7 linked regions of the Homo sapiens genome follow. The protein of the gene in region 3 purifies or fractionates together with the protein of the main gene of each other region. This does not show direct contact. Each region holds a gene or a part of one and is shown on either strand. Other genes may lie near its edges.

What was found.
Region 1: the proteins of SLC9A3 (region 3) and LRP6 purify together in Homo sapiens (affinity purification with mass spectrometry; one large-scale study listed by BioGRID and IntAct). This does not show direct contact.
Region 2: the proteins of SLC9A3 (region 3) and B3GALNT2 purify together in Homo sapiens (affinity purification with mass spectrometry; one large-scale study listed by BioGRID and IntAct). This does not show direct contact.
Region 4: the proteins of SLC9A3 (region 3) and PRKAG1 purify together in Homo sapiens (affinity purification with mass spectrometry; one large-scale study listed by BioGRID and IntAct). This does not show direct contact.
Region 5: the proteins of SLC9A3 (region 3) and GRAMD1A purify together in Homo sapiens (affinity purification with mass spectrometry; one large-scale study listed by BioGRID and IntAct). This does not show direct contact.
Region 6: the proteins of SLC9A3 (region 3) and LRP3 purify together in Homo sapiens (affinity purification with mass spectrometry; one large-scale study listed by BioGRID and IntAct). This does not show direct contact.
Region 7: the proteins of SLC9A3 (region 3) and IQGAP3 purify together in Homo sapiens (affinity purification with mass spectrometry; one large-scale study listed by BioGRID and IntAct). This does not show direct contact.

What each region holds. Positions count from the first base shown.
Region 1 is NC_000012.12:12,260,545-12,264,044, forward strand, and holds part of LRP6 (low-density lipoprotein receptor-related protein 6 isoform b precursor), read right to left. Parts: intron 1-3,500. UniProt on the Homo sapiens protein: Component of the Wnt-Fzd-LRP5-LRP6 complex that triggers beta-catenin signaling through inducing aggregation of receptor-ligand complexes into ribosome-sized signalosomes.
Region 2 is NC_000001.11:235,483,953-235,487,452, forward strand, and holds part of B3GALNT2 (UDP-GalNAc:beta-1,3-N-acetylgalactosaminyltransferase 2), read right to left. Parts: intron 564-3,500; coding exon 370-563; intron 1-369. UniProt on the Homo sapiens protein: Beta-1,3-N-acetylgalactosaminyltransferase that synthesizes a unique carbohydrate structure, GalNAc-beta-1-3GlcNAc, on N- and O-glycans. Has no galactose nor galactosaminyl transferase activity toward any acceptor substrate.
Region 3 is NC_000005.10:517,950-521,449, forward strand, and holds part of SLC9A3 (sodium/hydrogen exchanger 3 isoform 1 precursor), read right to left. Parts: intron 1-3,500. UniProt on the Homo sapiens protein: Plasma membrane Na(+)/H(+) antiporter. Exchanges intracellular H(+) ions for extracellular Na(+) in 1:1 stoichiometry, playing a key role in salt and fluid absorption and pH homeostasis.
Region 4 is NC_000012.12:49,008,777-49,012,276, reverse strand, and holds part of PRKAG1 (5'-AMP-activated protein kinase subunit gamma-1), read left to right. Parts: intron 1-2,887; exon of another isoform or gene 2,888-2,968; intron 2,969-3,500. UniProt on the Homo sapiens protein: AMP/ATP-binding subunit of AMP-activated protein kinase (AMPK), an energy sensor protein kinase that plays a key role in regulating cellular energy metabolism.
Region 5 is NC_000019.10:35,024,323-35,026,969, reverse strand, and holds the end of GRAMD1A (protein Aster-A), read right to left. Parts: intron 922-2,647; coding exon 829-921; 3' UTR 501-828; downstream 1-500. UniProt on the Homo sapiens protein: Cholesterol transporter that mediates non-vesicular transport of cholesterol from the plasma membrane (PM) to the endoplasmic reticulum (ER).
Region 6 is NC_000019.10:33,200,830-33,204,329, reverse strand, and holds part of LRP3 (low-density lipoprotein receptor-related protein 3 precursor), read right to left. Parts: intron 1,483-3,500; coding exon 1,344-1,482; intron 1-1,343. UniProt on the Homo sapiens protein: Probable receptor, which may be involved in the internalization of lipophilic molecules and/or signal transduction. Its precise role is however unclear, since it does not bind to very low density lipoprotein (VLDL) or to LRPAP1 in vitro.
Region 7 is NC_000001.11:156,527,566-156,531,065, forward strand, and holds part of IQGAP3 (ras GTPase-activating-like protein IQGAP3), read right to left. Parts: intron 2,753-3,500; coding exon 2,540-2,752; intron 1,865-2,539; exon of another isoform or gene 1,765-1,864; intron 1,518-1,764; coding exon 1,351-1,517; intron 1,046-1,350; coding exon 944-1,045; intron 496-943; coding exon 387-495; intron 1-386.

The sequences.
Region 1 (3,500 bases), on a different chromosome or scaffold from region 3:
CCAGGACATAGCGACACTTAAAATGTTTTACCAGTCTTTCCAGAGTATAATGTTTCTTTTAATTCGGCCATCTTAATAATAGCAACCATTTATTCAATGTCTACTATTGACTGTGCGTTCTACTACCCCTTTACAAACATTTCGTCAGTTCTCACAGAAGTCTTGCAAGTTATATCCCCACCTAACAGGAAAGGAAATAACTTGTCCAAAGGAACACAAAGCGGCAGAAGAGTTTAACTTGGCCTGTTTAACAACAAGCCATGTCTTTCTGCTATAGTACCTTCCATATAATCTTCTCTAAATGTAAACTTTCAATAGAATTTCTACGATGAAAATAATCTTTCTCAGAGTAGTTACCCATGGCCTAAATAGCACTAAACATTATTTTTCCAGTATGCGCAAAATATTTAAACAAAAAATATACGTTCTCATAAAATATTTTCCATTAATATATCCCTTCCCAGAATCTCCTTTGATATTTAAAACAGTCCTTTCTGACAGCCAAAGCATATATAAGGACACAGTAGTTCAGTACAGCAAATGGAAAAACTTCCAATTAAAGCAAAGAAAAAAATCTCTTAAAAATTGAATCATGGCCGGGCGCGGTGGCTCACGCCTGTAATCCCAACAGTTTGGGAGGCCGAGGCGGGCGGATCACGAGATCAGGAGATCGAGACCATCCTGGCTAACACGGTGAAACCCCATCTCTACTAAAAATACAAAAAATTAATCGGGCGTGGTGGCGGGCGCCTATAGGCTGAGGCAGGAGAATGGCGTGAACCCGGGAGGCGGAGCTTGTAGTGAGCTGAGATCACGCCGCTGCACTCCAGCCTGGGCGACAGAGCAAGACTCCGTCTCAAAAAAAAAAAAAAAAATTGAACCACAGGAAATCACTATTAGCCCTTCTGATAATAACAAGCTAAAACCTTAAAATTTAATAACCAGACAAATTATTGTTTAGCCAAATGAGCAAACCTGAAGCCAGGTAAGTAAACAGGAATGACAGTATCAAATTAACTATATGAAACTGTCATCAAATATCAATGTAATACTTGACAAGTTTGGAAAATAATAGGTTAAACAAAGTTAAAACCGGTCTCTTTACCTCAGGACTTTTCAGAACCCTTAATGTGTTAACATGAATTCTAATCTCCAAATAAAGTGTACAGAGATCACTCAAGGTTACACAGCAAATTTAGAACCATAACTTAATTCTCCTGATTGCCACTCCAAAATTTGTTCTACTTCCCCAAGACTTTATAACACCTGATTTTAAAGGAAGAAAGGATCGCTTCTACAGAAATACAAGATGCAAAACATTAGTGGTTTGTTCCAACAATATTTACCAGCCCACCAAAACAAAAAAAAGTAACGAAGAATTTTTATATAACAAGCCTCCTCAAAAAAAGCTAAAAAGGCCAGGCGCGGTGGCTCACGCCTGTAATCCCAACACTTTGGGAGGCAGAGGTGGGTGGATCACCTGAGGTCAGGAGTTCGAGACCAGCCTGACCAATATGGTGAAACCCCATCTCTACTAAAAATACAAAAATTAGGCCGGGCACAGTGGCTCACACCTGTAATCCCAGCACTTTGGGAGGTCAAGGCAGGTGGATAACTTGAGGTCAGGAGTTCAAGATCATCCTGACCAATATGGTGAAAGCCCGTCTCTACTAAAAATATAAAAATTATCCGGGCATGGTGGTGTGAGCCTGTGGTCCCAGCTACTCAGGAGGCTGAAACAGGAGAATTGCTTGAACCCAGGAGGGAGAGGTTGCAGTGAGCTGAGATCATGCCACTGCACTCCAGCCTGGGCGACAGGGTGAGATACCGTCTCAAAAACCAAAAAAATACAAAAATACAAAAATAAGTCAGGCATGGTGGCAGGCACCTGTAGTCTCAGCTACTCAGGAGGCTGAGACAGGAGAATCGCTTGAACCAAGGAGGCAGAGATTGCAGTGAGCCAAGATCGCGGCACTGCACTTCAGCCTGAGCGACAGAGCGAGACTCCGTCTCAAAAAAAAAAAAAAAAGCAAGCTAAGAAATAGTATTTCACAGATTACACACACCGATGGTATTCCAAAACCTATATTCTTATCAAAAATACTTCCAGCAGAAGATCAGATATTATTTTTTCTCATCAGTATCCGAATGGAACTAAGAAAATGGTAAGGATGGCAACCTAAACTGTGAGGCCCGTTAGATTAGGAAACACATTGTTTTACTCACCATCAGTACCAGAGGCTGACATATAGGAGGTATTCCATACATATTTGCTAAAAGAATGAATAATAAATCCCTGCCCCATCTTTAATTAACCTACCTTTATTAAATTACAGTATCTCTGAATCTGAGTTTCCCCACTTACAAATAAACTGGTGAGGCTCAAACGACCAAGATCCCTTTCACTTTTAAGAATGTGTGAATCTGGGCCAGGCGTGGTGGCTCACACCTGTAATCCCAGCACTTTGGGAGGCCGAGATGGGCAGATCACCTGAGGTCGGGAGTTCGAGACCAGCCTGACCAACAAGGAGAAACCCCATCTCTACTAAAAATACAAAAAAAAAAAAAAAATTAGCTGGGCATGGTGGTGCATGCCTGTAATTCCAGCTACTCAGGAGGTTGAGGTAGGAGTATCGCTTGAACCCGGGAGGCGGAGGTTGCAGTGAGCCGAGATCATGCCATTGCACTCTAGCCTGAGCAACAAGAGCGAAACTCTGTCTTTAAAAAAAAAAAAAGAATGTGTGAATCTGGCCGGGCGTGGTGGCTCACGCCTGTAATTCCAGGACTTTGGGAGGCCGAGGTGGGCGGATCACGAGGTCAGGAGATGGAGACCATCCTGGCTAACACAGTGAAACCCCGTCTCTACTAAAAAATACAAAAAAATGAGTCCCAGCTACTCAGGAGGCTGAGGCAGGAGAAAGGCGTGAACCCGGCAGGCAGAGCTTGCAGTGAGCGGAGATCACACCAATGCACTCCAGCCTGGGCAACAGAGCAAGAATCCGTCTCAAAAAAAAAAAAAAGAATGTGTGAATCTGCACCTGTAATCCCAGAACTCCGAGAGGCGGAGGTGGGAGGATCACTTGAGCCCAGGAGTTTAAGACCATCCTGGGCAACATAGCAAAACTCTGGCTCTATAAAAATTAGCCAAGTGTTATGGCACACAACTGTGGTCCCAGCTACTTGGGAGGCTGAGGTGGGAAGATCACATGAACACAGGAGGTCCAGGCTGCAGTGAGCAGCGATCATGCCACTGCACTCCAGCCTAGGCAACAGAGCAAGACCCTACCTCCAAAAAAAAAATAGGAATTCGTGAACCTGGCCAAGCATGGTGGCTCACACCTGTAACCTGTAATCCCAGCACTTTGAGAGGATCACTTGAGGCCAGGAGTTGGAGACCAGCCTGGGCAACATATCAAGACACCCCCACACCAACCCCATATCTACAAAAAATTGGGGGCATAGTGGCACGTGCCTATAGTTCAGAGCTTTGGGAGGATGAA
Region 2 (3,500 bases), on a different chromosome or scaffold from region 3:
TGTATTACAGACTTCTACAGTTGGAAGTAAGAGGCAATAATACTCACTTATCCTAAGAATCCTAAACTTTTTTTATATCCATTACCAACTTTTGAAATTCCCTAGGTTTTAGGGAATTTTAGGTTGGAGATTTCTAATCTAGTCAACTCCTTCTCTTCTAGATATAGCACATTTATTCACAGATAATCTATCCCCAAACCAGTCTTATATCACACTACAGTGTATTTAGTCAATAGGGGAAGAAAGGTGAAAGTCTCTCAACCAGAGAGAATTATATAGTCTTCCAATCTACTTACTGTATGTCACAAGGAAAAGTTGATGTTTTTGAAAAAGAAAAAAGAGAAAAAACCTGTACAGAGCAGTGCATACCTCTTGTTCTGCCTGATAAAGTTTGACAGTGATGTTCCTCTGGAAACCCACATCATTGGCATCGTAGAACACTCCAAGACTGGTAATAACGATGGGGTAGAGAACTCGGAAACTCACGCTGACAACTCGATCCTCAGGCAGCCCCGATGAAGTGTCTTCGGACAGACTGAACGCTTCAATTTCCTGATTCAAAACTAAGTAATGAGAACAGGTTTATATAACTGAACAAATGTAATCCTTTGTTTTACTAGTAAGAAGTAGTGAAGTGGGCTTAATGCCAAAACCTAGGTAATCATTTGCTATATAATTCACAAATGGCAGGAATTTTTAAAAAATGCTTGAGAAAAATGGCTGCTTCTATATAAACATTTTTGAAATTTAAGAATAAAGTTTTCAGCCACATCTAAGTAAGTTAATTATCAGAACTGCTTTAATAGCTTTTTGCATAAATGTGTGCATATATATGTATAAACGCCACAGGAGATATTAAATTTAAGTCAACTGGAAGGCATCTATTTGGAAGGGTTGGATAAATAGAAATAAGAAAAACAGTACTGACTGTAGTCATAAATAATCAGTAAATTTGGTCTTACTGTGCAAATTCCAAAAATCCTACTTCTTGTTAGGCAATTTAAAATACTTGTGATACATCAGGCAATTATTACGGTATAAATAAGCAACTGAAGTCACTTCAAATAACACTGAAAAACTCTTGCTGTACAGCACTGATAAAAGATAAGCATATCAAACACAGTTTTGAACCATCTTCTATGTACCATTTCCCATCACATTTATATCTTCACTACTACCCTTGTGGTTGTGGCATTATCTCCAGTTTACATATTAAGAAACTGAGGCCCAAAATTAAGCAATTCACCTAAGGTCATAGAAAGTGGCAGATCCAGGAATCAAGTCCCATTTAGTGATTCCAAAGTCAGTCCCCTTTCCACTCCCTCACAGCTGTCTAATCAGTGCCAAAACAGTTCAAATAATTTTTCTTTTATTTCTTTTTTTGAGACAGTCACCCAGTCACCCAGGCTGCAGTGCAGTGGCATGAACATGGCTTATTGCAGTCTCAACCTCCTTTGCTCAAGGGATCCTCCTGCCTCAGCCTCCTGAGTAGCTGGGACCGCAGGCACACACCACCAGGCCTTGCTAATTTTTTGTAGAGATGGGGGTCTCATCATGTTACCCAGGCTGGTCTTGAACTGCAATCCTCCCGCCTCAGCCTCCCAAAGTGCTGGGATTACAGGCATGAGCCACTGTGCCCAGCCTTCAAATAAATTTTCTAATTACCATAAATGAATCAGAATACATTAAATAAAGCAGTTCATAGGCAGGGAATATCAGTGCTACTTTAATAATATAAAACCCTATTTTAAAAGATTATATCAAAGTTCTTTGTATCTTTTAGAGCTGTGGTTTTCAAATTTTGCTGACTACACAACACCATCAGTTAAAAATATTTGTACACACACCTATTTACTTACAAAATATATGCATATATTGTGGTGAGTCTATATATTCAGTATTAATAAAGATTGTATTTTCTTATTTTCAGATAAATAGAAATTCTAAGCCTGGGCAACATGGTGAAACTCTGTCTCTACGATACAAAAATTAGCTGGGCGTGGTGGCACACACCTGTAATCCCACCTACTTGGGAGGCTGAGGCACGAGAATTGCTTGAGCCTGGGAGGAAGAGGCTGCAGTGACCTGAGATTGTGCCACTGCAGTGCAGCCTGGGCAACAGAGCAAGACCCTGTCTCAAAAAAAAAGAAATTACATTTTCTTCCTATACTCTAGGTCATTTGGTTGCCCACGTCAGACTTCCTAGAAGCTCTTTACACTCAGTAGATATTCAGTAAAATGGGATTAAAGGGAAGTGATGACTCCTACCTAATTATAGACATGAACAGGAGGGAAAAAAGGGAGAATACAGTTTTTTGTCATGGGCTGGGCAAGCACTAACTGGAGAGTCTAGACTACAACATAATGGACAACAATACAATTTTTTCTCTTTAAGATATTCAGTAAATAACAGATATCCATAGTAGAAACCTCTTTATTAAAAGCAATAAGTCAATTATAATATAGCATTTTTAGATATTTTCTTATCTAAAAGAATTGTGCCTTGAGCTTCAAGTTACGTGGACACAGGAAATCCCGTTGCATTACAGTGCTATTAAACCTTCTACCACAGCCACAGTATCACGATGATTAATGCTTACCATGACCTTCAGGTACTGAAATAACCATAACTGCCTTTGGATCATCGAAAAGATAAGATTAGGTTCAATATTAACTTAGTTATATACGCATTTAAAAATTCATAACCTAGGTATTACATATATGAAAATGTTCTTTTAACATAAAGTTCTACTTCTTTACTTTTAATAAATAACAGCACTTAAGATAATAAAAATATGGTTAATTTAAAAGTGAAGGGCTTCTTTTTGTTTTGGTTTGGTTTTCAATTGTAATTTGTTGGAGGATACATCAGTGGATACCACATCAGTGACATAACATTCTATGGGGTTTATGATCCCTTTAAGACTCCAGTGAGGCCAGGCGTGGTGGCTCACGCCTATAATCCCAGCACTTTGGGAGGCTGAGGGGGGTGGATCACGTGAGGTCAGGAGTTTGAGACTAGCCTGGCCAATGTGGTGAAACCCCATCTCTACTAAAAATAAGTCAGGCGTGGTGGCGGGCACCTGTAATTCTAGCTACTCGGGAGACTAAGGCAGGAGAATCGCTTGAACCTGGGAGGTGGAGGTTGCAGTGAGCCGAGATCGCGCCATTGCACTCCAGTCTGGGTGACAAGAGCGAAACTCTGTCTCCAAAAAAAAAAAAAAGACAAGACTCCAGTGAAAGCCAAAGGACTTTCTCCCCAGCACACAATTCATACATAAAATTTGCTTACAATGTTAACTGAATTCACAGACATCCTAAGTAAGAAACCTCTATTTTGTAATACAGACCTGAATATATTGTCCAATTTATTTAAAAAGCTGTTTGAAACCCAGCTTTATAAAATAGCAGGCTCTTTAAAATAATGTTCAGTACCTTCCACCTTCTAGGAACTATTATTCTAAATACATCATATGTATCAACTTATTTCATCCTTATGT
Region 3 (3,500 bases):
CACCCTTCCATCCATTTACTCATCCATTCATCCATTCATCAATCCACGCATCCATCCATCTATCTATTCACTCATCCATCCATCCATCCACATGTCCATTCACGTGCTCAGATCTGCAGGACTCTGCTGGGGACAGGCACTGGGGACACAGGAGGAATAAGACAGACAACCTCTGCCATTGTGGCATCAACCTGGTTGAGCCAAAAGACCTTGGAGGAGGAGGTGTCCTCAGGAGCTCAGAGGAGGAAGGCTCCGAGCTCAGGAAAGGTGGAGCAGGAGAGATGCTGAGTGTGAAGGGATGAAGCTGGGGTGAGTGCATGATTTGGGGGAGGGTGGAGTCTGGCATCCCAGGACCTGGTACCCTGAGACCTGGCACCCTGAGACCTGATACCCTGAGATCTAGCACCCTGAGATATGGCACTTCGCGACCGGGCACCCTGAGGCCTGGCACTTGGAGATCTGGCATCCTGAGACCTGGCACCCTGAGACCTGGTACCCCAACACCTGGTACCCAGAAACCTGGCACGCCAACACCTGGCACCCTGACACCTGGTATCCTGAGACTCTTGTCTCAAGGGTGGGTGAGGAAAGCCTTGGTGGCTTCATCGTGCACTGAGACTCCTGGTTGTGGGACTCAGCCCAGACGCTGGGCAGATGATGTGCAGGATGGGAACCCCAACTCTAAACATGCCCCAGTGCAGCCCCTGGCTCCTGGAGAAGCCGGCAGTGGGGGTGGCCACGCTGGGAGAGCTCAGCCATTTCTGCAGTAGACATGAGGCTGGTTGGGTGCTGGAGCTTGGGCCCAGACAGGCATCTTAACAAGCCTGTGTGGTCACAGGGAGCGCCACACACGCCCAGAGGCGGGGAGCTCCTGGGGTGGCAGGGAGTGGGCTGGGGGGGCTGGCGGCCAAGAGTGACTCACCATCCCTGTCTCTCTCTCAGCCTCTGGCGGAGCTGCCAGGTACCCACAGGGAGCCCTGGTGGTTCCTTCCCTGCCCCGATGCTATCAGCACTTCCCAACCTTTGCCCCTTTCCTCAGGATTCTCCCGGGCGACACCTTAGCTCCAAACGCCATGGATTGTTTTATAGCCTACAGCTGATTCTCCGTGGGCAGCTCCTGGAAAATGAAACTTCACCCCTTCAGGGCCAGACCCTCCCCTGTGGAGACTCCTGGGAGAGTCTTTGCTTCCAGGCCTCCCGTGATGGCTCCTGACTCCAAACCCACTGAGCATACCTCTCCTGCCAGGACTGGGGTCCACAGGGCCCACTCACTGGTCCTCTCCTGGGAGGACTGGGTCCCCTGGGGACTTTGCTGACCACCCTGGCCTTCTAGGCCATCCTTGTCCCCAGAACCTCCTTTCCTATGCTTCTTCAAGGAGAACCTAAGGGCAGTTCAGCTGGAGTGGGTAGCAGATATGGTGAAGGGGTAGGTGCTGTGCGCATTGAGGGATTCCTGCCTCCAGGACCAGAGCACATGCAATAAAACCATTCACCCCAGGAGGTGAAGGTGACCCACAGCTGCCCTCACAGCCTGGGCACTGAGTGCCCGGTGGAAGGCTGCACCTGGGAGAAATCCACAGCTTAGGCAGGTGGTCTAGGCAGTGTCACACCCCCAGTGGCGGAGGCTCCCTGGGACACGCTGGGTAAGACAGCGGGGGTCCGGGAGTCAAGTGTCGGGTGAGGACGACCTCCTGCACCCACCCAGACAACAAGGAAGCACCCAGTGCCTCAGATTTGGGGCCGGGAGCAGGGAACCTGGCGCTCAGGGATCTGGGTCTTGACCCTGTCCAGTTAAGGAGGAGGTGCTGGAACCCCAAGGCTGAAGCTCCTGCAGAAAAGCATTCCCACACTCCCACAGTGGGGGTAACGCCGCTCAGAGGGGGGTGGGGGGGCTGCGCCGCTCAGAGCAGGGGGCTGCACTCCTGACCCTGTGCCCTAGCGTCCTCCTGACCCTCCTACGGCTGCGCGAGGCACTGCAGACTCCAGATACCCGTCTCGCTCCTGCCTGCCCTTCCAGCCAGGGTTCACCAAGATGTGGGGCGGCCTGGGCCTCCGCCATCACATCCCTCAGCAACACAAGCTCCACTTCGAGAGCCTGCCCCCACCGCCCCCACCCAGCCCCACTGTCCTGGTTTCCCCGTGGGCAGTCACTGCCGCTGCTCAGGTCCTAACCCTCAAGGCGCCACCTCCCTGAGCCAGCGCTGCCCAGCTCTGGAGTTCAGGCCCCATGGGATGTCAGCTCCCACACCTCCTGTGCGTCCACGACCCAAGGGGTACCCACGGCCAGACGCCTGGGGACAAATAGACCCAGCTGGGCCTAGAATCCACTCCCGGCCCCAGCCCCTCCCCGGTTTCCGACATCTCAAAATTGTAACTCCCCCAGTTCCCTTTTGGTCGGGTCCTGTCGCTCATGTGTGGCTCAGAGCTGCAGGGCGAGGTCAGCGCAGCAGAGCCCCCCGAAGGGTTGAGAACAGGATGGGGCCAGGAGGTCTGGCCCCTGCTGTGTCACTGATGACCCTGTGACATCCCCACTCCTGCTTCAAGGAGGCCCTGCTGTCCACCGCCCTGATGCCCAAGGGAAGCTCCCCACCATCCTCCCGGAATCTCCCCGGTGCCATTCTCTGCCCCATGGCCAGGCAGTCGTCTGAGAACTCAGATCTGACCACATCCACTCCTCACCACGACGCTAGGTGGGGACCAAAGTCCTCCAAGGCCTGTAGCTGAGTTGCTCGGGCCTCCCTCTGCCTCCCCAGGGACCCACCCTAGGCCTCCTCCTCTGGCTTCTGACACCCCCGCCTCCCTCTCCTTCCAGGGGCCCATTGCTTGCAGTCCTGACACCTGCCACTGCCTGGATCCCACCCCAGGGCCCCCACCCAGTGCTGCCAGGCCTGGCAGTCTCTGCAAGGCACAGCCTCAGCCCCCAGAGGAAGCCCAGGAAGGAAGGAAAGCCTGGCCCAGGGTTCCCAACACGGACGGTGCAGGGTGAGGCGGGGATTCTGGTGGGCACCTAAGGCCTAGAGTGGCCCTGGTGCGGGTGGCTGCAGGCTGGGGGCCCCCAAGGGGCACAGGAGGAAGCCCCCTCACCCTGCCTGAGGCAGACACTAGGCCCTGCCGCCTCCACTGCTAAAGACTTCCTCGTCCTCTCAGTCTGGGAGGTCTGCGCTGTGGAGTGGCTCCGTGGCCTCGGCCCTTGCCTCCCCTTCTGCATTTTAAAAAGATGCTGTAAAAGGCAGGGGAACCCCAGTGCACACAAATAGGGGGCTTGTGGGGAGCCCTTGCCGGAGCCAGACACGCGGCCTGAGGCTGGTGGGCCAACAGCAGCACCTGTTCCTTGCCCAGGCTCCTGGGCCACCTGCTGAGGCCCCAGCCCCAGTGTTTGCTTGAGGCAGCTCTGGCCCTCTGGCCATCCTCTGTCCCAAGCTGCCTGGAGTAGAAATCTCCTGGGATCAACATTGCTGTGGGTTTCAGGGTACCCGGACTCTTATTTCCCCAACCAGGTT
Region 4 (3,500 bases), on a different chromosome or scaffold from region 3:
GTGCCTATTTTATGTTTCTGAGTACATTTGCATTAGCACCAAGGCAGAAACTAGAAACTCAAATTGCCTACATGGACCAAGCAGTGAAGTGAACTACATATGAAAAGAAGGCGACAGCTGGGCCGGGCATGGTGATTCATGACTGTATTCCCAGCACTTTGGGAGGCCAAGGTGGGTGGATCACCTAAGGTCAGAAGTTGAAGACCAGCCTGGCCAACATCGTGAAATCTTGTCTCTACTAAAAATAAAAAATTAGCTGGGCGTGGAGCTGCATGCCTGTAATCCCAGCTACTCGGGAGGCTGAGGCAGGAGAATTTTTAGAACCTGGGAGGCAGAGGTTGCAGTGAGCCGAGACTGTGCCACTACACCCCAGCCTGGGCGACAGCACAAGACTCTGTCTCAAAAAACTAAAGGCAGCTGGGTGTGGTGGCTCACGCCTGTAATCCCACCACATTGGGAGGCCAAGGCAGGTGGATCACCTGAGGTCACAAGTTACAGACCAGTCTGATCAACATGGTGGAACCCCATCTCTACTAAGTAGAAAAAATTAGCTGGGCTTGATGGTGGGCGCCTATAATCCCAGCTGCTTGGGAGGCTGAGGCAGGAGAATCACAGAATCGCTTGAACCTGGGAGGCAGATTTTGTTGCAGTGAGCCGAGATCATGCCATTGTACTCCAGCCTGGGCAACAAAAGTGAAACTCCGTCTCAAAAAAAAAAAAAGGCGACAACTATCTAGGTCTGGTCAACTAAGACCTATTTTTGCCAGATCTTCAAGTCTGGGCACAGTGTAACACCAGCACTTTGAGAGGCCAAGGCAGGAGGATCACTTGAGCTCAGGAGTTCGAAACCAGCCTGGATAACTTAGTGAGACCCTGTCTCTACAAAAAATTAAAAATTTTTTGCACTCCAGCCTGGGCAGAGAGTGAGATCCTGTCTCAATTATAAACAAACAAACACTGAGAAAGCCAAATCCAATATGTTTATGGGCCTGTGGCCTGAATGATAGTATTTAACTATCAATGTAGTGTATGTATCTTCAACTGGTGTCCAAAGACATGTTCTTGGGAGTCTGAATTCTCAAGTTTGAATAACAATGGTAGGCTTCCAGTTAAAGACGGTAGATTGGTAGATTGGGCTGCGCGTAGTGGCTCATGCTTGTAATCCCAGCACTTTGGGAGGCTGAGGCGGGTGGATCACTTGAGAACAAGAGTTTGAGACCAGCCTGGCCAACATGGTGAAACCCCGTCTCTACTAAAAATATAAAAATTAGCCAGGCATGGTGACATGTGCCGTAATCCCAGCTACTTGGGAGGCTGAGGCATGAGAATCGCTTGAACTCAGGAGGAGGAGGTTGCAGTGAGTGGAGATCGCACCACTGCACTCCAGCTTGGGTGACAGAGCAAGACTCTGTCTCAAAAAAAAAAAAAGGTGGTACATTGAATATATATTCCCAAAAACTCCCCTAAAACCACCATAAAGGAATTTTTTTAAAGAAAAAGACACAAACACACCATAGGGAAAACAGGAGAGGAGATAATAGCAATGAATTTTTGGAAGCTGAAAAGCAGACAAAAGAGTGATGAATGACTTAGACCTGAGAAAACTGAATTATAACTAGCAGTGAGGAAAGCCAAGAAGCATTGAAGGTCTAAGAAACAGTCAGATCCCAAGACACCCTACCCCATTGAGTACAGTGGGCAACTCTGCCTCCCAACTGTGGCAGAGACTGGAAATCTGGCAAGGGACTCGGGCACAGCTTAGGGCTGAAGTACTGCACTGAAAACAGGAGCATGTAGTGAACTATACTCGATGCTGAGCCTCCAGCCCTTTCCCCCTTTTCAGTTTCCAGAGCGCTGGCAGAAGAGCCTTCACCCTCCAAGCATGAAATTGAATAATCCTTCTCTCCAGAATCCTCTTGAAGGGAAGTCCTAAAATATATAAGTATTGAATGTTCCCTATCCAAATGACTCACTGTCAGCAAGGCTCACTTACACACTTAGAGCTTCCACTCAGCTTTAAAGCCTCCACTCTTAAGTTATGGTTTAAGTTCTCCTTTAAACTAGGGATTACCAAACATCTAAAGAAAGGATCTGTGAAAAAAAGTGATCCAAACTGCCCCCCACCCCACTCTGGAATGTACCTTTGTTTTACTCTGAAGGCTGTATCTCCCTGGTAAAAAATAAATAAAAATGAAAAAGCAAACTGCCTCTCCCAACCTCATGTACACACAGAAGAAACAAACAGGAAAAAAGCAACTGGAAGGAAAAGATGAGAAGAAAACTTTAATAACATTAATATAATCTTAGATAAAGGAACATATTTCTCAATACCTGTGAAAGTAGTATATCTTTAAAGAAAACAACAGCCGGGCACGGTGGCTCACGCCTGTAATCCCAGCACTTTGGGAGGCCGAGGCAGGCAGATCACCTGAGGTCAGGAGTTTGAGACCAGCCTGCCCAATATGATGAAACCCTGTCTGTACTAAAAATACAAAAATTAGCTGGGCATGGTGGCATGTACCTGTAATCCCAGATACTCGGGAGGCTGAGACAGGAGAATCGCTTGAACCCAGGAGGTGGAGGTTGCTGTGAGCCGAGATTGCACCATTGCACTCCAGCCTGGGCAACAAGAGTGAAACTCTGTCTCAAAAAAACAAAAACAACAACAACAAAAAACCTTATTTCCACCATGAAACAAGTATAGGATACAATTTTTTAAAGAAGGAATTTTCAGAAAACAAAAAGGAACTCTTGGAAATTAAAAATATAGTAGCAAAAATTTAAACCCAGCTGGAGGTTTCAAAAATCAACATGAGGAAATTTCCCAGAAAGGAGAGTTAAAAATCAACAAAGTAGAAAATAGGAGAGAAGGTGCAGTGGCTCATACCTGTAATCCCAGCACTTTGGGAGACTGAGGCGGGAGGCCAGGAGTTCAAGACCAGCTCAGCAACACAGCAAGACCCTGTCTCTACAAAAAAATAAAAATTAGCCAGGCATAGTGGCATACACTTGTAGTCCCAGCTACTCAGGAGGCTGAGATAGGAGAATTGCTTGAGCCCAGAAGGTCAAGGCTGCAGGTGAGCCATGATCTCGCCATTGTACTCCAGCCTGGGTAACAGAATGAAAGCCTGTCTCTTTAAAAAAAAAAAAAAAAAAGGAGAGGAAAGATTCCAACAACCCACAAAACAAACAAACATTTAAAGGATCAGTCTAGGAGGTCCAGTATCTAAATAGGAGTCATAGAAAAAGAAAAATGGCAACACAGAGGGAAGGAAATAATTGAGGAACTAATTCAAGAACATTTATTGGAACTTGAGGACATTAGTTTTCATATTGAAAGGACCCATCGAATATTCAGCACAATGGATGAAAGTGACCCACCCAAAGCACAGTCATCCTGAGATTTCAGAACACTGGAAACAGAGATCCTATGAGTTTTCAGAGAGAGGAAAAAAAAGTCACATACAAAAAGTCAGAATTGCCTTGGACTCTCAACAACA
Region 5 (2,647 bases), on a different chromosome or scaffold from region 3:
AACCAAAGTGTCGTCTGGGATGGCACCATGAGCAACTCCTGGGAACTCGTTATAAAGGCAGAATCCCAGCCCTGCCCCAGACCTACTGAACCAGAAATTTGGAGGGAGGGGCCCACAGTCTGTTTTTCATCAAGCTCTCCAGGAGATTCGAATGCAGCTCAAGTTTGAGAACCACTGCCTTCTAACAACCCTGAGAGACAGCTACTGCCATTCTACCCATTGCACAGGAAAGCTCACTGGAGCTCCAGGGGGCTGACCTGCTGCATTTACACCACTGCTAGGAAGCAGGATTTGAACTCCAGCTACCACGGTCTGTCCCCGGAGTTCCTGCGTTGACCTCAGATGATGTAAAGCTTGTGTAAGATGCTGCGGGAATTCCAGATCGTTTCAGTGACTATGGCCCCAGAACACAGACAGAGGTCCCCTCCCCACCATGGCAGGATCTGAGTGCAACAGGAGGCTCCCACCCACTCCCAGGGCCCCACAGGCACAGCCACAGCCACTTCTGACCCTTTATTGGGGCACTGTCGGCCCCAAATAAATATAATACATTAAACCCAGAGCTGAGGGAATCGTGCACCCCAGGAGGCGCCCCCCACAACCTCAGCCGGGCAAAATAAGTTAGTGGGGGGCCTGCCAGAGGCCGGGCCAGCTCCCTGGTCTAAAGTGCATCTCGGTTCCGTGGTCCCCACGTCTGCACAGCCCCTGGTTGGGCCGTCGGGAGGGGCGGGTGGGAGATGCCTGGCGCTCACACCGTGCCAGCAGTGGCCGCCGAGGCTCTGTGTGTCCATCTGTCCATGTGGGGGAACAGCTGCGTGGCCGGGGTCCTCAGGAAAAGCTGTCATCGGGCCGGGGCTGGGTGTCAAAGGGAGGGTCTGAGACTGTGATGCCTTGGTGCAGCTTCTCCAGCGAGAACTTCATCTGCGGGGAGGAGGTGAGCAGGGTCGGGGGTGAACGCTGGAGGCTGGGGGGTGATGTCGCCCACCCCCACCTTGCCATTGAGAAACTGAGGACGGTCTAGAGGCCATACTGCCCCACCCCAGGGTCCCTTGGTGAAAAGAGCACAGCCATGCTGCACCCAGTTTAACTTCTCAGAGGCAGCAGAGGAAGGGGCTTAGTGTGTGCCTGTGACCCCGATGGCCTAGGTTCAAATCCTGGCTCTGCTGCTTGTTACCTCAGTTAACCTCAGGCAAGTCCCGTAACCACCCTGAGCCAAAATCCCCTCATTTGAAATACGGGTCTATAACACATCTGCTCCACAGGATTATTTCAGGGTTCTGAAGAGCACTGAGAACCTGGTGTACACTAAGTGCTCAGCACATGTTAGCTGTCACCATTACCCACTCTGTGACCTCGGGCAAGCTCCTGAGCTCCTCGAACCTCTGGATGCCTCATATCGCCTACCTATGTATAAAACCGGGATAACGGCCGGGCACAGTGCCTCATGCGTGTAATCTCAGCACTTTGGGAGGCTGAGACCGGTGGATCACTTAAGGTCAGGAGTTCAAGACCAGCCTGGCCAACATGGTGAAAGCCCGTCTCTACTAAAAATACAAAAATTAGCCAGGCGTGGTGGCGGGTGCCTGTAATCCCAGCTACCTGGGAAGCTGAGGCACGAGAATCGCTTTAACCTGGAAGGCAGAGGTCGCACCACTGCACGCCAGCCTGGGTGACAGATCGAGACTGTCTCAAAAAAACTGGGATAACAAGAGCATCTTCTCAAAGGCTGGCTGTGGGGATAAAGCAGTCATGCTTAAAACCTAGAACAGCCCAGCTGCAGGTAAGTGCTCAGTCTACATCTACTGTGAGCACCAATCTGTGACGTCAACTCTGCACCCTTAGCAGTTTGACAGAGAGGAAAATGATAAAAATTTAACTCAGGGCCAGGCGTGGTGGATCACACCTGCAATCCCAGGACTTTGGGAGGCCGAGGCGGGAGGATTGCCTGAGGCCAGGAGTTTGAGACCAGCCTGGGCAACATGGTGAGACTCTGGTCTCTACAAAAAATTTTAAAATTGGCCAGGTGTGGTGGTGCCTGCCTATAGTCCCAGCTACTCAGGATGCTGAGGCAGGAGGATCACTTGAGTCAGGAGTTCGAGGCAGCGATGAGCCATGATCGTGCCACTGCACTCCAGCCTGGGCAACAGAATGAGATCCTGTCTCAAAAGAATAAAATAAAATAACGCAGGATGGGGGGCCCTGCCTACCCTCTCTATGAGTGATGGGGCCTCAGCCTTCATCTCCTCCCCACCCCATCCTGCCCCGCCCTTTCCAGTGTGAGCCTCTCCCAAGCTTGATTTCGGGGGGCAATGAGACCCCTAAAGATGAGCCTTCTGATATGGAAGGGTCCAATGAGACAAGATTTTCACCGTCACCCACAACTTCAGCTCTGATGGCCTTGGAAATGCAGGCAATGCCAGACTCTGTTTCCCATCCGCTTTCCCCCTCGACACCTTCCCCGAGTGCCTAACACTTGCTCTGACCCACCACAACTGCTGGCCTGACACTTGCTCTGACCCACCGCAACTGCTGGCCTGACACTTGCTCTGACCCACCGCAACTGCTGGCCTGAGTCTACTGGGGCCTGAGGGAATTGTCGTGTGATGACATCACATTTATTGGGCATCTGCTTTGTCCCTGGCACTAG
Region 6 (3,500 bases), on a different chromosome or scaffold from region 3:
CGAAGTGGAGCAGGAAGTCAAGAGCCCCCTGCCCCGACACCCTCCCCAAAAGGGCAGTGGCCCAAGGGCCCAGAACCCTCCACCTCGGGACCACTGGGATGGGCCCAGCACAAAGTCCCAGGCATGGGAAGTGAGGGTGAGACTGCCCACGGGGCTGGCTAAGGCTGCAGCAGGTTGACAGCTTGTCATCTCCGGAGATACACTGGCCCTGAACCACCTGGCCCTTGGGGAAACTGAGGCACAGAGACTAGGATAGACCCTGCCCATGCCCATCACATCCTCACGCATTGCAGCTATGGAGTAAGTCAGGGGTTGCGCTTTTTGGGCTCTGGCATTTAGGAAAACTATGGCAGATGGAACCTATAGTGACTCCCCAGCCAAATGTCCCTGTGACCACCCCTGGCCAGGACCACCGCTCACTGCCTGGCCCCCTTTCCCTCTGCATGTCCCTGCAGCTCAAGCACCCGGGCTTTGCCTGATTCACTCCCCTCCCCAAGGCCCCCTCCAGAAACCATGCTCTGGGCTCAGTGCCAGCCTGGCCCCCAGCCACCCCTGCAGGACAGAGAGGACACCTCTGCCACCTCAGAGACATCAGACCATGCCCACCAGTCCCAGGCTGTGTTCCCAGTGGCCTGTGTGCTGGCCCTGCCTTCCTGGCAGAGCTGAGTGACTGAGACCCCCCACACCCCATGAACGAGGCTCAAACCAGGAAGAGGTCCAGCTTGGGCACCTCGCCACAGAGGCCCGTGGAGACCCAGAGCACTGGACACACTTGCGTGCATGCATTCACATGTGCACATACATGCTTACGGTTCACACATGGTTACACCTGTTATCTTACATGCATGCGCACATACACGCTCTCTGCACCTTTGCAGGCATGGCTCGTGCACATACATGTGCTCACACATGCAGTCTCTCACATGTGTCCTTTATGTCTTCTCCGACATGGGCTTTTCCATGTACACAAGCACACATGTGTTCACATACATGCACACACACACATATGCACACACACCTACTTACATGTGTTCACATGCATGCACACACCACATACCTGCTCAAATACCTACACACGCCTACCTCACACACACACATCTGCATGCACACACACCTACTCACAAATGCTCACACACATGCACACACCCATACACCTGTTCACACGAGTGCTCACACACGCCTCACTCATATGCTCACACACATGCACATGATCCCACACCTGCTCACACACATGTACACCCTCAGGCGTGTGCCCTCCACACCTGCTCACACACACACATTCTCACCCACCCCATGCACGTGGGCCCACATTGATTCCTTCCGACACCCCCGGGTGCCCCTACCTGATGGTAATCATGTCACCACGGTCGCCCTGGATGTACCAGCTGCAGTTGGTGCCTGGCGGGTAGTTGAGGGGCCAGGCCGGGCTGTAGATGACCCCACGCCGCTCCGTGTGCTGCTCCAGCTTCCCACTGCAGGCCGCTGTCGGGAGAGGAGGCCGAGAAAGGCCGGCCCATCTTTGGTTGGGATGCGGGTTGCAGTGGGGGGAAGGGGGCTTCAGCACAGGCCTCCCCCATGGTGGGATCGAGTCCAGCCAAGGGTGGCCATGGCCAAGGGCAAGGCCACAACTTGTGACTTCATGGAGGTGGTGTGTACGGGAGGCCAAGGAGGGCCCCCTAGACTTGAGGCAGCTGTAGCCCCCAACCCTATGCAGTGGACTACAGCCTAGGTCCTGTCCCCCGCATCTCTGGCAGAGCTGGGAGAAAACCCACCAACAACCCGTCCTGCCAGCCGGCACCTCCAAGGTGTAGCCTCGTGGCCTCGGGTCAGTGGAGAATCCCACACCCCTAGGCCTGCCCAGCCGGCATAGCCCATCCTGCGATGGCCCCCTGCCTGCCTTCCCTGAGGCTTTGCTCACTCAACAAGTATTTACTGAGCACCTACTACATGCCAAGCATGCATGGTAGGCACACTGAGTAAGGTGGGAATAAGGCCTGCTCTATGGAACTCATAGGCTGGGGGTGGGAGCAGACGAACTTTACGCAGAACCCCTCAGTGGAATGAAGATACTACAACAGGCCTGAAGAGAGGTGGCAAAGTCCAGCTGTGGCTGGAAACGCCACCTGGATCTGATCACACCTTGTGCAGAATTTGAGTTTTATCCTGAGTACAAGTGCAAAGCCGCCAAAGGTAGATCTCGGAACCAGGTGAGGAAACAGGCTCAGAGAGGGTCAGCGACTTGCCTGGGGCCACACAGTTAGGGAGGGGCAGAGTCAGGAATCACTGTAGGCCTCTGGGGGCCTCAGCTTCTTGCTGCAGCACTGAGCCAGCATGCACTCATGGAGTGCCAACTGTATACCGCTCAGGTTGAGCAAAGCATCACGCCCGCCAGCTCAAAGGAGGAGCCCTCCATGCCCAGCCCCATGGGCCTCGCTTTAATCCATCCATTCTCCATGCTCTCTGCTTCTAAACCATCCAGGGCAGTGTGGTGAGCCTGCCCTGCCCCGCTGTGCCCTGACCCTCCCAGGACCAGGCGGCTGGCCCCTGCACTTGACCACACCTCCCACCCCACAGCACCCTGACCCTTCCCCACGCTGGTCCATCTGATTCTCACAACAGCCTGAGATGAAGGCAGGGCCCATTTTGCAGATGGAAAAACTGAGGTGAGGGACGACCCCTTTCCCGAGCCCAGTGACACTCTCTCCTCACTCTCCCATGGCTGGCCCCTGGCACCGTGACCTTGCAAGCCAAGTTCTCTCTGGTTCTCAGCAAGACTCTCTGGCACCCAGCTGCAGGAAAGGAAGGAGAGCCCTCTGGCTGCCTCCCATGCTCTTAGGACAAAACCACAATTCACTACAGCAGCGCCAGCCCCCTCCCTGCCCCACACTCTGCCTCATCCCTCCCATAACCCCTAGCCCCCCGGACCTCTCCGATCTCTCACATTGGAGGGGACTTTGCCCTGGAGGCCCTGGTGGTCCCTAGTGGGTGCTATCCCCACCTTCTTATCCCATTCACGGACTCCTCAGCTTCCACCCCTAGCTCCAAGGTCCCTTCCCAGGGAAGCCCTCCGGGATAGCCCCCACAGAGCTCCAACCCTCCATCCCTCCCCCCAGCCTCGGCCACAGAGCATTTCCCTTTTGTTGTTGGGACTGATGGATGAACATCACACAGGCAGGTAGGGCCGTGCCATGTCCCAGGGCCCTGCACAGTGCCTAATGCATGGCAGGTGCTCCAGAGATGTGGGTCCCTGAGTGGACGGGTCCATCTGAGGACCTGCTGGGCAGCTGGAGCCATGAGCTGAGAGCTGAAGCCCCTTCCCCTGGGGGCCTACTAGGACCATGAAGGCCCAGGTGAGTCGGGACTGTGACAAATAGGGAGCCAGTAACCCCCACGGACAGCTCGTGAGAGCATCAAGGATAAGAACAGAACTCTTGGTCCTAAAGCAAGGCTGGCCACCACTGCGTCACCATCAGACCCTTGACAGTCCCAGGTCAGTGAGG
Region 7 (3,500 bases), on a different chromosome or scaffold from region 3:
CCTATGACTTAGCCAGCTTCTTAACCTTTTAGCCTAGAGCCTGTAAAATAGGGATAATACTTCAGAGCTGTGGAGAGGATTAAAGGAGGTAACATGTAAAGTCCCTGACATGTGATAGGGCTTCAAATATTAATCCTGCTTCTGACACCAGTAGCCCACTCCACTCTCCCTGATGCTTGCCAGTGGGGTCTGTGTCAGGGCATGGGGAAAGGGGGGCTTGGGCTGCACAGACCCCCACCCTTCTCTTCAGGAACAGACGATACTGATTGGGTGAAAAACTGAGCTGGTGTCATCTGAGGACTAGGAAAGTGAGGCCAGCTGCTCTCTTCAGGCCAGCACCTAAAGCCCAGCAGATGTCCTGCAGGCTCATGGGACTGTCCCCTCACCTGATAGTGAAGCTGAAATCGCTCCATGTCCACACCCAGGAACTTGGCATTTACTTCAAACTTTCCTGCCTCATCTCCCGGCGTGATGTCAAAGATGACGTTTCTGAAGCTGTCAGGAACAGGATTCAAAACAGGAACCCACTGCCTCTTTCCAGGGCTACAGCCACATTCTTGCACCCACTGCTCCTCATCCTGGGCAGCGGTGTCATCCAGAACCAGTTTTCCCTCTGTCACTCCCAGAGGGCCCAGCTCGCTGTCTTCTCCATTTTACTTCTGCTCCCCACACCATCTCTTTATCTGCCCCGCCCTACGCAGCTGTTCTCACCTCTGGAAAGCTTTCCCAGTACCCTCTGCCTCAGGGCATCTAGAACTGTGCTAGACCATGTCCACAGCCCTTCACTTTCTGTCTGGGCATGCTCTGTCTCCACCATCATTCTAGCAGCTCCTTCAAGATCGGGACCATGCTTCTTCTCTTCCACCCGGTGCCCAGCCCAGAGCTCCACCCCCAGGTTAGAGGACAGGAAGGGGCTGACATCCTGCCCTCCAAAGACACATACTGAGAGGCGGGAAGATCTTCAATTTCCACCAAGACACCCTTTTCCAGGAGCTGAGCAGCAGTGTAATGAAGAGAAGGCTGCTTCTTCCCCTTCCCAGAACTCCTGATTAAAAGAAGGCCCCAGAGAATTCATCCAATAAACACTTTACCACCAAAGAAACTTGTTTTCTGTGGCTGGAAAGGAAATGAGACCCCGAGGAAGACTTCTCACTGATGGAAGACAGAGGAGGGGGGCTGCACTTGAGCCCAAGACTTTGTAAATGAGGCTCAAAGACCAGACTTAGGAAGGGACTGTGCTGTGCTGGGTGAGATTCCCCTTTCAAAGCTGGGAGATAGCAGGGCAAAGGTGACATGGGCAGGGGTGAGAAGTCACTCGTAACCTTCCAAGTACGGGAAAGCAGCACCTACTTGGAGTCGGGGGCCAGGTGGTCCAGGCAGGCCCGGATGTACTGGCTGTAGTAGTCACCCTGCTCCTCATAGAAGGTGGTCTTAGTGCTCAGGCCCTGTAATGTGGCCTGCAGCTTCACCAGCTCTGCCTTCCGCCTGTGCCTGTGTCTGTGCTGGTTGCGGATGTCCTGGGGTTGGGGAACAGATGGAGGGATGAGTGGTCCTTCCTGGCAGGAGAGCCTTAGGGCCTGACACAGGCCCAAGAGCTACACACTGTGAGGCTCTTCGGAAGAACAGGCTTCAAGGCTGTTTTCCTAGAAGGAAAATCTCAAGGATGGTATTCCAAATCCTCAAGGCATGTCCTCAGGGCCTCTGCCCGTTGAGGACTAACTGGTTTCAAGGCTGTTTGTTTTTTAGTAAAAGAAAGTTGCAAGGATACTTTTGTAGGTCATAAGCTGAGGATTGGGTTTTCATGCTCTTGTGTGAGATATGCTTCTCTCAAACCTTCTGACCTGGGCACATTACCCAGCTAATGTGGGGAAGAAAAAAAAAAAGAGAGTTGCAAGAACACCTTCCTCTCTAACTAATTTCAAGATCTTTCCTTCAGGCTAGGAGTGGTGATTCACACCTGTAATCCCAGCACTTTGTGAGAGCCTAAGGTGGGCAGATTACTTGAGGTCAGGAGTTTGAGACCAGCCTGGCCAACATGGTGAAACCCTGTCTCTACTAAAAATACAAAAATTTGGCTGGGTGCAGTGGCTCACACCTGTAATCCCAGCATTTTGGGAGGCCAAGATGGGCGGACCCTGAGGTCAGGAGTTCGAAACCAGCCAGGCCAACATGGCCTGAAACCGTGTCTCTACTAAAAATACAAAAATTAGCCGGGCATGGCAGCGCGCACCTGTAATCCCAGCTACTTGGGAGGCTGAGGCAGGAGAATCACTTGAACCCAGGAGGTGAAGGTTGCAGTGAGCCAGGATCACACCACTGCTCTCCAGCCTGGATGAGAGTGAGACTGTCTCAAAAAAAAAAAAAAAAAAGAAAAAAAAATCTTTCCTTCAAAAAGGACCCTCAGCCTTCCTCTGGCTGGTGACAATTTTGGGTGAGGACTCATCAGGAGGGGCCCACCAACACTATGGATTAACATGTATATGCACGCACACACACACACGTACACACAGGCACACGGAGCCCAGGCCCAGGTTGTTACCTTGGCCAGCTCGTCCACTAGCCCCTGGTAGCCATTTCTGGCGCTGACCAACCCCAGGGCTTCAAGTCGGCGTAGGTTCCGCAGGACGCGCCGCTGCTTCTCTGCCAGTGGCAGGAGGGAGTGAGCTGTCAGTGAGCGGTGTCGTCGCAGTGGCTCCGGTGTCTGGGCTGTACAGGCCTGGCGTCGGCTCATCAGCTGCTTGTGGGCTGCTTCCTGGGGACACACAGACGCTGGAGGGGTCTACCAGGTCCTACCATTCTGCTCCCACACCAGTGAAGGTCCCATGGGCACCAGCAACAAAGGGAGGCCTGAGCATTTTTCTGCATATCATTAAGAAAGTGCCCCAGAGCCCAGCCTCTGCAGGATATGGCTGGGGCAGGGCATCGCTTATGAAGAATATCAAGGTATAACACCATAATGCATGGTGTCACACATGGGAGGGCCTCATAGATCACCACAGGGGAAGAGTGGCCCAAAGGAGAACCAAACCCAGGCCATGGCATAAAGGATTCCGGACAGACACTAGCTGTGACTTCCCAACAATGGATCTTTCTGACGGCACAGGATGTTTGGGGGCATTTACCTGTCTGTTCTGTTTTGGGACATACCTCTACTGGCCATCCCCACCTTTTCTTTGGGAAGACCCTGGTTCAGTCTTCACTCCAGCGGGCCCAACCTGCCCCTGGCCCCCCACCTGCCTACTACCTTCTCCTGCCTCCAGGCATTCTAGCAGACCACTCTTCTGAGTGCAGGCCTTCCAGGGGAGCATTCCCAGACGGTCTCTCAGTGCCCCCCATAGCCCTAGTGTTGGTGCTTGTTTCAGTGTGTGAAGTGGGGAGAGGGGTGGGGCCCCATGACTCTGTAGCCCGAGGCTTCCCAAGGCTAAAGCTGTATCCCTCATCCTGTAGGCCTCCAGAGTTCTCATTACTGGTGAGCACAGGTGTCTGCTTCTGGCTGATGT